4 linked regions of the Homo sapiens genome follow. The protein of the gene in region 1 purifies or fractionates together with the protein of each later gene. This does not show direct contact. Each region holds a gene or a part of one and is shown on either strand. Other genes may lie near its edges.

Evidence for each region. Proteins that work in one complex are often made in the same cells at the same time.
Region 2: the proteins of ZNF512 (region 1) and WDR3 purify together in Homo sapiens (affinity purification with mass spectrometry; 2 studies listed by BioGRID and IntAct, with this or other methods). This does not show direct contact.
Region 3: the proteins of ZNF512 (region 1) and NMNAT1 purify together in Homo sapiens (affinity purification with mass spectrometry; 2 studies listed by BioGRID and IntAct, with this or other methods). This does not show direct contact.
Region 4: the proteins of ZNF512 (region 1) and NOL8 purify together in Homo sapiens (affinity purification with mass spectrometry; 2 studies listed by BioGRID and IntAct, with this or other methods). This does not show direct contact.

Annotation. Positions count from the first base shown.
Region 1 is NC_000002.12:27,596,540-27,600,290, reverse strand, and holds part of ZNF512 (zinc finger protein 512), read right to left. Parts: intron 2,225-3,751; coding exon 2,037-2,224; intron 709-2,036; coding exon 613-708; intron 322-612; coding exon 238-321; intron 1-237. UniProt on the Homo sapiens protein: May be involved in transcriptional regulation.
Region 2 is NC_000001.11:117,936,034-117,939,738, reverse strand, and holds part of WDR3 (WD repeat-containing protein 3), read right to left. Parts: intron 2,971-3,705; coding exon 2,852-2,970; intron 1,260-2,851; coding exon 1,181-1,259; intron 263-1,180; coding exon 167-262; intron 1-166. UniProt on the Homo sapiens protein: Part of the small subunit (SSU) processome, first precursor of the small eukaryotic ribosomal subunit.
Region 3 is NC_000001.11:9,970,770-9,974,474, reverse strand, and holds part of NMNAT1 (nicotinamide/nicotinic acid mononucleotide adenylyltransferase 1), read right to left. Parts: intron 2,458-3,705; 5' UTR 2,402-2,457; coding exon 2,287-2,401; intron 1-2,286.
Region 4 is NC_000009.12:92,304,851-92,308,555, forward strand, and holds part of NOL8 (nucleolar protein 8), read right to left. Parts: intron 2,175-3,705; coding exon 2,036-2,174; intron 981-2,035; coding exon 903-980; coding exon of another isoform or gene 899-902; exon of another isoform or gene 898-898; intron 1-897. UniProt on the Homo sapiens protein: Plays an essential role in the survival of diffuse-type gastric cancer cells. Acts as a nucleolar anchoring protein for DDX47. May be involved in regulation of gene expression at the post-transcriptional level or in ribosome biogenesis in cancer cells.

The DNA.
Region 1 (3,751 bases):
TTACCCCTATTCATAGACAGGGAAACTGAGGCAAGAGGAAGTTAAATAAATTGAGGCAGGTCACAAAGTTAATGAAGAGCCAAAACTTGAGCAAAGGTCTGTCTGACTCCAAACTAGAGCCCTTAGTAACTGCCTCCTTAAAGAAATGCTTTAGTACCTCATTCCTTCACAGACAACACCAACAACAAATCAGAGTGTGAGAACTACATCCCTCAAAACTTCCAAAAGAAAACATACCTGCTGCATAAACTGGTGGTTCCTTCCGAATACGACGGGCCTGGGATTTGGGATTGGGCTGAGTTTTAGGCCGTTGCTTCCTCCCTGACATAAGACAGAAACTTGAAGCCCAGCATGTCACCCTTGCTAATACCAAAATCTCTTCCCTCTCCTCCTCTTCAACACCCTATTTCCCAGTCCCTCAACCGACTGACTGCCTAAGTCAGGACAGAATGAAAGGGTATAATGAGGCAGGATGGAGGCCATTCCCTCCCAAACAATTCAAAGGGCTCAGAGGTCACTGAAGGGCTCAAACTAAGGCTTCTCTTTCCTTTACCCTCAAAGAATAAAGCTCAGTCACCCAAGGAAAAAGAAGTAGCAAAGTTACTGCCTTACCATAAAGCTTATGCTTCTTCTGAGGAAATTCTCGATAGTCTTCATCTTCTTCCTGCCTGGGTTTCCTTTTCCCCTTGGCTGATACTCCACCTGACCCTGAAGTACCATACAAAAACAAAACAAAAACTCAGCACACTTTGTAAATGAACATCTAGGCCTGTCTTCAAAACATCATTCACAAGACCATCAAAAGGAAAGATCATCAGTGAACACAGGCCTCAGAGAAATGTCTGTGACATTTTTAGAGAAGTTGGTGTAACTTCTCATTAACTGACCCACTCTCCCTTTCTTTTTATATTGTTATCTATTCCAAATCATCCATTGTTCCTTATGAATAATAAGGGCATTCAAGCAATGTGTTTTGCTTAATCTTGACTTGAGGCTAACAAGAGGATAAGAATTGCTCAAGATAGAGGGCTAGCCACCAAGGACCCTTGAGATTGTGACGATCCAGAATATTCTCCCCTGAATAATCCTTACACCAGCCCCTAAATCATCAACAGAGGATCACACTAGAAGAAAAGGGGGGCCAGCCATGGTGACTCACATCTGTAATCCCAGCACTTTGAGATTACAGACTTTGGCCAAAGTGGGCGGATTACCTGAGGTCAGGAGTTCAAGACCAGCCTGACCAACATGGAGAAACCCCGTCTCTGCTAAAAATACAAAATTAGCCAGGTGTGGTGGCACATGCCTGTAATCCCAGCTACTCAGCTGGCATTACAAGCTGAGGCAGGAGAATCGCTTGAACCCAGGAGAAGGAGGGTGCGGTGAGCCTGAGCTCGAGTCATTGCACTCTAGTCTGGGCAAGAAGAGTGAAACTCCGTCTCAAAAAAAAAAGAAGAAGAAAAGGGGAATTCAAATACTACAAAGAGGAAAATCAAATGCTAAATATAATCTAGAGGAGTAAGATTAGCAGAATTTCACTCTATCACATAGCAGTTCATGAAGCTAATGGGACAGGATGCAATTGCCTAACACCTTAAATTTTTTTAAATCACTAATGAGAAACAAATATGTGGCATTTCATACTCTTTTTTTTTTTTTTTTGAGACGGAGTCTCGCTCTTTCGCCCAGGCTACAGTGCAATGGTGCGATCTCTGCTCAGTGCAACCTCTGCCTCCCAGGTTCATGCCATTCTCCTGCCTCAGCCTCCTGAGTAGCTGGGACTACAGGCGCCCACCACCAGGCCCCGCTAATTTTTTGTATTTTTAGTAGAGACGGGGTTTCACCATGTTAGCCAGGATGGTCTCGATCTCCTGACCTTGTGATCCGCCCGCCTCGACCTCCCAAAGTGCTGGGATTACAGGCGTGAGCCACCACGCTCAGCCGCCATTTAATACTTTTAAGAGGTATTTATAACAATCTCAAACTATAACTTTAGGAAGTGGCCCGTCTTCAGAATAAGACACTGATATTGATACCTTCGACATGAGAAGTAGCAGCTGGCTTGATTCTTCTCATCTTCATCCAGTAGGTAGATTTTCGGAAAGATGCTGGAAAATCACTCACTGGTTCACACGAAGATGCAGACGATGAACCACTTAAGGAGTCATCATGAGGGATAGTGTACTGGAAACTATTATCCTTTATGGAGCACTGGGTCCTGCTACTAATACAACATAAAAATATATACCACAAAGGAAGGTCTGGAGCAAAATTTCTATACATTCTTTTACATTATAACCAAGTTGGTTACCTCTGCAGAAAACTAAGAAGCCTGCTATAAAAACAGAATGTAAGTTGTAATCACCTAACAATAACAATAGTTGATCTAACACAACATGTACAATTATTATCACACTTCATTGTAATAAGAGTAAGCAGTACACATAAATGATCACTTTGCAGCCCAAGTAGACATTCCTTCCTAGATTCATCTAATAAAAGAAAGTAGGTGAAGCAATAAAGGTGTTCTATGACCCTTCAGAAGACTCCCTGGATTTGTAACCTGGTATGTCCCAGCCTCTCTCTTTCTCTGACAGAGGGATGGCAACTAAAGGGTATCTCTAAGGGAAAGGAATAGTCTGTGGGCCCTAATCTGACTCATCTTCCTTCTGCCTCAGCATTCTCCCTAAAACCTGATGCCCTATCTTATTTAGGCAACATGATACTTAGCTTCCACAGCTAAAGGATGGATGCTATCTTGCATGAATTAACCTGGCCAGAGATTTCTGGTATACAGCTGAATCCAGATTCCAAAATCTAAGACCAGTCAGTATGACAGCTAAAAAACATTACTCTGTAACTACAAAGCATCAGACATTCTTCTAGGTGGCTCAAGATGCAGCAGAGCAGCAGTTCTCCAAGAGTGGTCAATGGACTCCTAGAACCTCCCTTTTCCAGCTAAATACCTGTGAGGCCTACTTTAGATTTATGGTTCAGAAAGATCCTTCTGGCTGCTCTATGGAGACAGCCCATGGGAGAAAGAGTAAACAAAAGGAAAAAAGTTAACTTGAATTGGCAGATTCAAGGTAACACTTTAGATGTAGAGCTAATAAGAATTACACATAGAGAGGTTTGCTTATGACATCAGGGAGTTGGAAGTAACACAGTGACCATCCTTGCAAAATGTGATAGATGCCTACTATGGAATACTGTGCTGCTGTTAGAAGCAATAAACTAATTCTACACATAGAGACACGACCATAACTAAAAAGTATATTGTTGAATGAAAAAAGAAACAAAACAGTATCTCTAGCACAATGTCAGTTCAGCAAGCTAAAAACAAATCCACACATAAAGCAGCTTATTTTAAAGCTTATTTTTTAAAGGAGTCATAAATATTTAAGTGCAAACATCACACTTGTTTATACAGTTTCCTCTAGGAGGGAGGGGATGGAAATGGGGATGAGTAAACATAACAGAGACTGGTTATGTCAGTATGTTACAAATAGGGAAGAATGAGTTTCGGCTCTCCACACATGAGGTCCAATAACACAAATTTAATACACAGAAGTCCTGGCTCTGGAGGGGCAGCTAAGCCCACTAAGGCCCACCCCTCCTGCTCACTGGACTCTGTAAAACAAACAAAAACAAGTAAATTATGCAGGGGAGTCAAAGTTGGGAGAAGTGCCCCAAATGGGGTGAGTTTTCCAATTCTGTCTTTTTCCCTCAAGTAAGAATTTGCAATGAGGAT
Region 2 (3,705 bases), on another chromosome or scaffold:
TAATGAGCATATAAGGAAGAAAAGCTTTTTTAAGTGTTGCAGGTTATTGGTGTGATAGAATTCCTTCTAATATGATGTGAAGTACTGAATAATTACATCTGATTCTAAATCCAAGGTGCTTATGAAACTTCTAAACATATTGCCCATGATTTTAAGAAGTAATTACCTCTTGCAGATAAGCTATGTCCCATACCCTCAGTTCACTGTCTGAGGCCCCAGTGATGAGTCGCTTTTCTTCTGACAACAGAACCAACCCCCATACCTATAGAATATAAAAAGATTTGAGTAATACGATTTTCAAGAGATTCCAGGTAGCATAATATGACATTCCAAAAGTCTGTTACACCGTAGTAAAATGTCTAGCAATTTAAAGGCAAAGAAAAGGCATATCGACAACCCTTTCAAAATGCACTAAGAGAAGTCTCACTTTTACAGAGAAAAAAATGGCCTGCGGTGAAATTGTTACTTTTGTGATACTAGCAGTTTGTCTCTAACCTCGTATAATCAAATTAAGATAATGGCTGTTCAGCATAAATCTTAACTAGAATCCACTCAAATGATGATTTTAAGTCTTCTATTTCTTTGCTTTTAGCAGTGTCTAGCAAATAAAAGGTGCCCCACTAATGTCCATTGCATAACTTTCAGCTTCAAGTATCCGGGAATTAAATAATGAAAATAATATTGTTGCAAATCAACAAAGAATTTAATCTTCTTGTCATTAATTCTAGGTATTACCTTCCTGAATGCCTGATATGAATAAAGCACTGAGGATGCAAAGATATATAAAAAACAGTCCCTGAACTCAACTGAATAGATCTCTGTTCAAGTAACTATTTTAACAGCTACCACGTGCTGCTTACCTGTCAATAAGCTAGGTGCTGCACATATAATATCATTAAACTTCCCTACATTCATAAAAGTGGACACTTATTATTTAGAAATGATGAAACTCAGGAATTAAAAACCACGCAAGGCCAATTTTTACTACATGTCAGAGCAGCAGTATCTGCTCCAATGGCTGGCATTGCTTCCATCATACCAGCCTCACTGTCCCTCAAGATGGCATATGATAATTACTGTGTGCACTAAAAACAAAGAGCCATGAAAGGGGAAGAGAAGACCACCACCTTTTCCCTTTTGCCTTCCCATTATTTCCCTGGGCCCATGACCCTACACTTACCTCAGTCCGGTGGCCAACCATTGTTTTAAAGCAGTGCTGAGTATCAAGGTCCCACCATTTCACCATGGTATCTTTCCCACTAAAAGAAGAAACAGGAAAAAAATATATAGCCTGTTTAGGAAAACTCATTCAACGAATAGGGAGATCCAAAACTCACTGTTGCTTTAAAAGGAACATATGCTTCAATAATGTCTAAAGCTCCGATTCTCTCTGATCTTACTTTTGAAAAGCAAAGAATCCTAACTTTCCTTGTAGTTATTCCTGTGCAGAAAATAAAATGTTCCACCTATAAGCACAAGAATGACTTTAGATGCAGAGTACCAAAGAATACAGAATTTGATCCATCAGGCCTTCCTCCTATCATTTCCATCATCACAGCACTGGCATTCCCCTCAGACAGTCTACCATGGAAACATCTTAGACCGCTCCCACTCCCTTGTCTTCCTGTCCAGTTAGTCTCTTGTCCTGAAAATGCCTCCTCTGTGAAGTTTCTAAGTATTAACTCCTCTAGTCCATTTCTGTACACTAACCTGAACTTAAGTCCTACTACCTGGATTATTTTAACAGCTTCTCATTTGGTCTCTTTGTCCATTGCTGTTCTCTCATCCCATCCAATGTGCAACTGTCAGATAACCTTAATTTTTAATATTTGCACTAGCTCAATGTTCCCTGTAGAATCAAAGTCAGGCTCATTGGCAGCAGTCTCAAAATTTCCTATTTATTTGTTCTTAACCCCCTAAATATAACCTCTCGCAGCCAATGGCCTCTACTACTCCTGCTCAAACACCTCTTCCCTACCTCCTCACTACATAAATCTAATATAATCCTCCTTCATGAGCAAACTGGAAAAAAACACCGCTCAAAAACCTGATTTACAAAGTCCGTCCCATATAACCCCACCTTACAGTGTTATTTCTTTGCCTTTATATTCCCTAAGCTGTAATATATATTTTTTCTATTAGAACTATAGAATCATTCTCTTACAGAACCTGTGTTATCTGAACAAGACACTAATTTACCTGTATCCTATCCCACAGAAACAAATCCACCATTGGTAAAGCATTTAGTGCTCACAGCTTTTTCTGAGTCATTACTATGGTTCCTCTAATTAATGCCTGGCAAACCTTGGTATCCCAGCTTTTCCTAGGTGGCCATTCTTTAGGAATATTCATTATTATATTAGGTTGAACAATATAAAATTGTTGATATTTGATGATTTTTTATGTACACAAATAAAAATTTCAAATGGTTCATCCTAATAGGTGTTCAGAAGGCCTATGAAGTACAGTACATCTCTCCTCAAAAGGCAAGCCGAATTTAACACCTGGTATTCATATCTTCCCTCTGCTCCATATTCTGATTCCTGGCTTTCTAGAGATCTAGAAGGTAGACAAAGCTCATTCTATAATGAGTTTCAAAAGGCTAAGAAACACAGAAAAACTGATATCAAGAAAAAAGAATGACAAATTAGAAAAATGATTTTAAAAATAATATAGCTTTGGATAGCTCTACGATACTACTTAGAAGAAATGGAAAGAAGGAATGCAGGAGAACAGGAGAGAAAACTAATGCATAAGCATGAGCACACTGCTCATGAGAGAAATGAGTAAGGAATAAAGCAAATTCTCTCTTCCTAGAAAATAACTGGAAATTAAACCATTATTTCTTTACCTAGTAACTAGCAGGTTCTTTTCTCGTAGAAACAATGCTTGTGTGATGGCATCCTTGTGCCCCTTTAGACGGTACAGACCACTTTCATTGATCACATCCCATACAATAATATCTGTGTCCTAAAGGGATCAAATAATACAGATGAAAAATAATTTTCTTTACCATATATGGCCCAACTTGACAAACAATGAGACTTAATTATTAAAAAGGCAATACACAGTCCTTACAGAAAATTTGGAAAGCATGGGGAAAGTACAGGGGAATAAACACCAGCCTTATTCTCACCAACCAGAAATAATCCCCAGACATTGTTATTGCTCTAGTCTTTATGTATAATCCAGGTTATTTTCCTATTAGAAGACTAAAATCATGCCATTCATATCATTTTACAACCTTTTCTTTATTCATTTAATATTATTTCCATTTCTTCCATGTTATTCCAGAGTGTTCACATTTTTAATGCTCACATAATAATCAATTCTAAAGTAATAGCACAACTTATTTAAAAATTTTTCTGTTTCAGACATTTAGTTTCCAACCTTCTGCTGTTATAAATATGCAGAAGTGAACATTCTTATATACAAATTTCTGTATGTATCTCTGATTAGAAAAAACTAAAATGAAAAGCTCTTGGGTTATATGATATGTTTATTTTTAAAGTTTTGGATTCATACTATCAAAATGATCTCCAGGTTGGGTAAATCTATAGAACCAGCAGGGATATGTATGACAAGGCCTGTTCCCCATTCATTTAACTCTATTATTAGTTTTCTCAAAAACTACTACAAATATCATAAGTAAAAAATGTTCAGTCTTAATATTTATTTTAATTTACATTTTTTATGAATACAAAT
Region 3 (3,705 bases), on another chromosome or scaffold:
GGAGTTTGCAGTGAGCTGAGATCATGCCACTGCACTCCAGCCTGAGCGACAGAGCAAGACTCTGTCTCCAAAAAAAAAAAAAAATTAGCCAGATGTGGTGGCATGCCTGTAGTCACAGCTACTCAGGAGCCTGAGGCAGGCAGCTCACTTGAGTCCGGGAGGTAAAGGCTGCAGTGAGCTGTGATCATGCCACTGTACTCCAGCCTGCCCAGCCAGGGTGACAGAGTGAGAACCATTTCCACAAAAAAAAAAAAAAATCTGTGTATACACACAAATGTTTGCATATAAATTCATACAAAGAAGAGTGGAAGGATACACATGAAACTGTTATGGTTATGCTATGTTATGGTGGCTCATGCCTGTAATTCCAGCACTTTGGGAGGCCGACGTGGGAGGATCACTTGAGAACAGGAGTTCAAGAGCAGCCTGGTCAACATGGTGAAACCCCATTTCTACTAAAAATACAAAAATGGGCCGGGCATGGTGCTGTGTGCCTGTAATCCCAGTTACAGGGGAGGCTGAGGCAAAAGAATCGCTTGAATCCAGGAGGTGGAGGTTGCAGTGAGCCAAGACTGTGCCACTGCACTCCAGCCTGGGCGACAGAGCGAGACTCTGTAGAGTCAAGGTTTCGCCACATTGGCCAGGCTGATCTCAAACTCCTGACCTCAGGTAATCTGCCCCTTCTGCCTCTCGAAGTGCTGGGATTACAGGTATGTGCCACCACGCCCAGCCTATTCATGCATTTTTTTTTTTTTTTTTTTTTTTTTGAGATGGAGTCTCGCTCTGTCACCCAGGCTGGAGTGCAGTGGCGACATCTTGGCTCACTGCAAGCTCCGCCTCCCAGGTTCACGCCATCCTCCTGCCTCAGCCTCCCAAGTAGCTGGGACTACAGGCACCCGCCACCATGCCCGGCTAATTTTTTTGTATTTTTAGTAGAGATGGGGTTTCACCGTGTTAGCCAGGATGGTCTCAATCTCCTGACCTTGTGATCTGCCTGCCTTGGCCTCCCAAAGTGCTGGGATTCCAGGAGTAAGCCACCACGCCCAGCCTCATGCATTGTTTATGAAAACTTTTAGCTGGGTATGGTAGCTCATGCCTGTGATCCCAGCACTTTGGGAAGCCTGAGGTTGGGAGTTTGAGACCAGCCTGACCAACATGGAGAAACCCCGTCGCTACTAAAAATATAAAAAATTAGCCGGGCGTGGTGGCACATTCCTGTAATCCCAGCTACTCAGGAGGGTGAGGCAGGAGAATTGCTTGAACCCAGGAGGTGGAGGTTGCAGTGAGCCGAGATCGCGCCACTGCACTCCAGCCTGGGCAACAAGAGTGAAGTCCATCTCAAAAAAAAGAAAGAAAGAAAGAAAAAAGAAAACTTTTAAAAAGCTGTGCCTGATCCTAGAGGTTTTATGTATGCTAAAGTACAAGCTTTCGCTTTTTGCCTTAAGTAATGGGAAACTCCTAAAGAAGATTAAGCACAGGCATGACAGAATCAAATTCCTTTTTTTGGGGAGGGGTGGTCAGGGTCTTGCTCTGATGTCCAGGCTGGTGGGCAAAGGTGCAATCATGGCTCACGGTAGCCTAGACCTCCCGGGCTCAAGCAATCCTCCTACTTCAGTCTCCTGAGTAGCTGGGACCACAGGCACATGCCACCATACCTGGCTAATGTTTACAATTTTTTTTGTAGAGATGAGGTCTCTCTCTGTTTCCCAGGTTGGTCTCAAACTCCTGGCCTCAAGTGATCCTCCCACCTCGGCCTCCCAAAGCACTGGGATTACAGGTGTGAGCCACTGTACCTGGCTGTATTTTCTATTCTACAGGCCATAGCCAGATGCTCAATTCTTCCCTCATACTTCACCCTCTTTTTTGGCTAAGAATTCACTGTACAAGGGAGCAGGACAGCATGTTTGTGCCCAGTCAATGAAATGTGTATTCTGAAACAGACCCAGTCATGCCGGTTCTCTAGTATTTTTTTTTTTTTTTGAGATGGTGTCTTGCTCTGTCTCCAGGCTGGAGTGCAGTGCAGCAATCTCAGCTCACTGCAACCTCCGCCTCCCGGGTTCAAGCGATTCTACTGCCTCAGCCTCCCGAGTAGCTAGGACTACAGGCACAGTGAATTTTCGTATTTTTTAGTAGAGACAGGGTTTTACCATGTTGGCTAGGATGGTCTCGATCTCTTGACCTTGTGATCTGCCCGTCTCAGCCTCCCAAAATGCTGGGATTGCAGGTGTGAGCCACTGCACCCGGCTGGTTCTCTAGTCTTAAGCCACTTTTGGTTACTGCTCCTACCTGTTCCATTCATGTAGTCCTTGGCCAGCTCAAACAACCTGAGGTGCATGTTGGTGATGGGATTGAATGAACCACAAGCAAGGAGAACCACTTCAGTCTTCTCGGAATTTTCCATGGTAAGAACTTGAAGTTGTTGATCTAAATGGAAAACTGTGACACCTCCCTTGTTGTCTACAAAGGAAAAAGAAAATAAATTCAGTTATGCATTTTTTTTTCCCTAAGATAAGGTCTTGCTCTGCCACCCTGGCTAGAGTGTAGTGATGCAACCACAGCTGACTGCACCCTCAAACTTCTGGGCTCAAGTGATGCTCCCACCTCAGCCTCTCAAGTAGCTGGGAACACAGGCACATACCAATAGGCTGGCTAATTATTTTAAAGACTAATTTTTGTAGAGATGGGGGTCTTGCTATGTTGCCCAGGCTGCTCTCAGACTACTGGTCTCAAGCAACCCTTCCACCTCAGTCTCTCAAAGTGCTGGGATTACAAGCATGAGTCACCACGCCCAGCCCAGTTATAGGTCTTTTGATGTCCTTCCACATTCTCATTCCCAATAGATGGATTAAAAGTATTTGGCTTTGGCTGGGCGTGGTGGCTCACACATGTAATCCCAGCACTTTGGGAGGCTGGGGCGGGTGGATCATGAGGTCAAGAGATCAAGACCATCCTGGCCAACATGGTAAAACCTCGTCTTTACAAAAAATACAAAAATTAGCTGGGTGTGGTGACAGGCACCTGTAATCCCAGCTACTTGGGAGGCTGAGGCAGGAGAATCACTTGAACCCAGGAGGCGGAGGTTGCAGTGAGCCGAGACTGTGCCACTGCACTCCAGCCTGGCGACAGAGAGAGACTCCATCTCAAAAAGAAAAAAAAAATTGGCTTCAATCATTATGCTAACTCTAAAAATGTTTCCACATCTCCATCCCTCCTTTTCAATGTGAATCTGCAACTTCTACCATGAAGAGATGGAAGTGACTTCTCCACATTTTTTGACTTGCTTTGGGCAAAAGAATGTGGCACAAGTGTTAGTGTGGAGGATGCCAGAACATGTGGGAGAGCACCGATGCTCCCACTGATAGACAACCACCCCACATGTGGGGAACATAGCCATCCCCGACCAGCCAACTACAGTCCATCTGCTCAGACACATAAGCAAACCCAAGTGAGATCAACCAAACCTGGCTCAGATCGTCAAGCCAACAAGCTGACCCTAGTCTCAAAAACAAAAAATTAGTGTTCATTATCATATGTCACTCAAGTTTTGTGATTGCACTATTGTGGCCACAGTTAATTAATACAACAATATTATCATCTACCAAATACAGCATTTTTGCCTTTTAGTCAACATGATAGTAACATCATAACTTTCCACTAAATAATAGAATATAATTTACAAACCTCTTTTTCATATCAGTTATTCCA
Region 4 (3,705 bases), on another chromosome or scaffold:
CAAATTGTCCTGTTGTTTCAAGATTCAATTCAGGATACCACACTGCCTTTTGTGATTTTCGTGGCTATTAGCAGTTGGAAAATGAAGGATTTAAACCAAGCTGCTACTGGTTGCTCCATATATTTGCCATGTTTATCCAACTGACTGCACATCTATAGGAAACAGAAGCTCCTACCACACTAGATGGTTGAATGGTTGCCCCCCAAAAGCTATGTCCATGTCCTAATTCCTGAAACCTGTGAATGTTAACATTATTTAGATAAGGGGTCTTGCAGAGATATTAAGTTAAGGGTCCTAGGATGAGGAGCCCATCCAGGATTATCCAAGTGGGCCCTGAATGCTATCACAAGTGTCCTTATAAGAGGCACAAAGAGGAGAGACAGAAAAGAAGAGGCCATGTGAAGATAGAGGCAGAAATGGGAGTAATGTAGTCTCAAGCCAAGGAACACCAAAGGATTGGTGGCAGTCACTAGAAACTAGGAGAGGCATAAAACAGCTTTGTTTCCCTGAACCTCTAGAAGGAACATAACCTGTTCACTATCTTAATTTGGGACTTCTAGGTTCCAGAACTGTAAAGAAATAATTTTTGTGATTTTAAGTAACTAAGTTTGTGGTAGCTACAGAAGACACAAGAAACTAGTACAAATAAAAGGCATCATTTATACAAATAAAAGGTATAAATGATAGGAGTACATATCATTTATAGATTCCTCTGTTAAAAGGTAAGACCTCCTCCACCACATCAATAATTCCTTTCTAACTCTACCTGCACTACCCCTACCCCACCAATCTTAATACAGTGGGACCAATGAGTAGGATATTGGTTCCTACCTACATTTTTAATTGTCTGAAATGAGATTAATTTACATGATCCTATTGCTAAAAGAAGTAGCTCTACTTACCTTTCTTTTGGCTTATCATCTCTTTTTCTTTCGTAAGTGGCATGGTCTTGCTTCGTTGGATCATAATGTATGATGTCCCTATGTAAAAAAAGGAAGGGAGGTTGGAAGAGATAAAAACAGAACACTAATACAAAAAGTAAGTAGCAAATTATAATTCAGCACTAGGAAGATTCTAATTTTGCAGCAAGAAGAAGCCATATAACATCAGATAAGATAACTAGGATCTTACTAGAAATAACATATACATAGATTTTTCTTGGAGACAGAGTCTCGCTGTGTTGCCCAGGCTGGAGTGCAATGGCGTGATCTTGGCTCACTGCAACCTCCGCCTCCCAAGTTCAAGCGATTCTCCTGCCTCAGCCTCCCAAGTAGCTGGGATTACAGGCATGTGCCACCATGCCCGGCTAATTTTTATATTTTTAGTAGAGACGGGGTTTCACCATGTTGGCCAGGCTGCTCTCCAACTCCTGATCTCAGGTGATCCGCCCACCTTAGCCTCCCAAAGTGCTAGGATCACAGGTGTGAGCCACCATGCCCAGCCGAAAAAATATTTTAAACTACCTACTTTTGAGATTTCCTGGATTTTTTTAGCTTTTAAAATGATTTTAAACATACTAAAATACATACAGATAAAATGATATACTATCTGGGATTTGCATAAAACATTTCATTGTGTAAAGTAGGGGTTGGATAAAGGTATAGAAGAGAACACTGGTCACATGTTGGTGACTGTAAAAGCTAGGTGATGGTGTACAGGGCTTTCATTACCTGGTGTACAGGTAATGATGGTATACAGGGCTTTCATTAGTCTCTCTAAATTTCATGCCTGAAAATTTCCATAACAGTTACGTTTATATAAATACTTTTACAGTTACTATTTAAACTGTTTCCCATTTGTTTCACTAATGAAAGCGATGCTGCTATGACATCTAAGTGTATAAATACAGAAATAATTTAAGATTAGTTCCTTGAAGTGAATCACTGGGTCAAAGGCAAGTATATTTTTAAGGGTCTGATACATATTGCCAGCTGCCTCCCCAGGCCATTAAAAGAGACCTAGTTTTAAATTGAGTTCAAGAAGACATTTATGGCAAAGGATGATATGGTAGAATGGGATGGAACATAAAACATACTTAAATTTCTTAGCAGCTACTGATCCTCTGTTTGTAGAATTGCTTAAGTTGATTTGCAAAACACTTTGTACAACATTCAGGGCTTTCTTTTTTTCTTCAGCAAGCTCTTCTTCCTCAGCAGTTTTCTTTTCATTTACCTCTTTGAGGAAAAGGGATAATTAATACTCTCTTGGAAAACACAGCCTGAGAAGTCTCAATCATCAAATATTTACCAAGTACCTAAACATGTTCAAAATCCATTAAGACAGGAAGAAGAAACTTTAACCTCATTTCACTAACCTCCATAACCAAAGACCCTCAGTCATAGCAAACTCAGAAAGTCTGCGTGACCAGACAATGAAAAGTCCTACTTCTGTTCCTAATTATGAAAGTCTGAATTTAATGGCTTTCAGTAGCAAGTCTAAAACTTTTAAGGTAAAGATCGACAAATGTAATAGAGCAAGATACTAATAACTACAGTGATTATAGACTCTTTGATTTTTTTAACATTCTAAACATAATCTAAATTACGTAAATCTAAAAATGATAAAGAGTGAAAAATGGTAATGGTATATCTGACAATATAAGATATTAGTGGATAGTTGTTTCAGTCTTTGATTCAATAACAAGTATTATGGGAAAAAAACCATATGCCCTACACATACTAAGGCATCATGGACTTTTACAAGCTACTATCCTCAACTACTACAAACAGACAAAATATCACAGAATAAAGTTAAACAGCTAGTTTGGATTACAGAAATACAAAAGTAGTCTAAGCCTGTATGACTCTTTCAACTTACTGCAGGATATAAATAACCAACTAACAGAAACTAGAATAAAATGCTAATTTAAGTACTCTACAGGGATGCCCCCAAAGTTTCTAAGGGTTCAAAGGAAGTTGAGATAGTGTTTAACTGAATCAAAAGATGCTTTATAAACTAGGTAAAGTTATGAGGTAGGAAAGATAGAGTTGAATCCCTAGAGGTGGTAGGAAAGCATGCTAGGTGTTGGAAACAAAACGAACACATATATTGAAATAATAAAGTACAAAAAGTTTACACTGCATTAGGTTGAAACTGCTAATTTCAACAACTTTTGACTATCAAAAACATCAATTTAAATTTTAATCTAATAAGCATTAGGGAAGTAGATTATAATGCTGAAAAAGGCTCAAGGTGATATAGGCTGGCTGTGCTGCTTACTTGAGACAAAACGTTGTGCCTCAAAATTTGGGAAGGGGTCTGGTGCAGTGGTTCCATGCCTATAATCTCAGCACTTTGGGAAGCTGAGGCAGGAGGATCACTTGAGGCCAGGAGTTTGAGACCCGCCTAGGCAACACAGCGAGACCCTGTCTCTATGAAAATACAAAAATTAGCTGGACATGGTGGCACATGCCTGTAGTCCTAGCTACTAGAGAGACTGAGTTTGAGGTTACAGTAAGCTATGACTGTGCCACTGCACTCCAGCCTGAGGAACACAGTGAGATCCTGTCTCCAAAAAAATAAAAATAAAATGTTGAGAAGGAAAGAAAAAAACAACAACAGAGATTCTAAGAATGGACACGCCATCAACGCAGAAAGGTTAAGAAGAGCTGGTTTGGACTTGCTGAGTTTTAACACAAACTCAGGAAAGCCTGTGGAAAATATCCAACAGGCGTTTAAGACCAGTTGGGAGCTCAGCAGAACAGC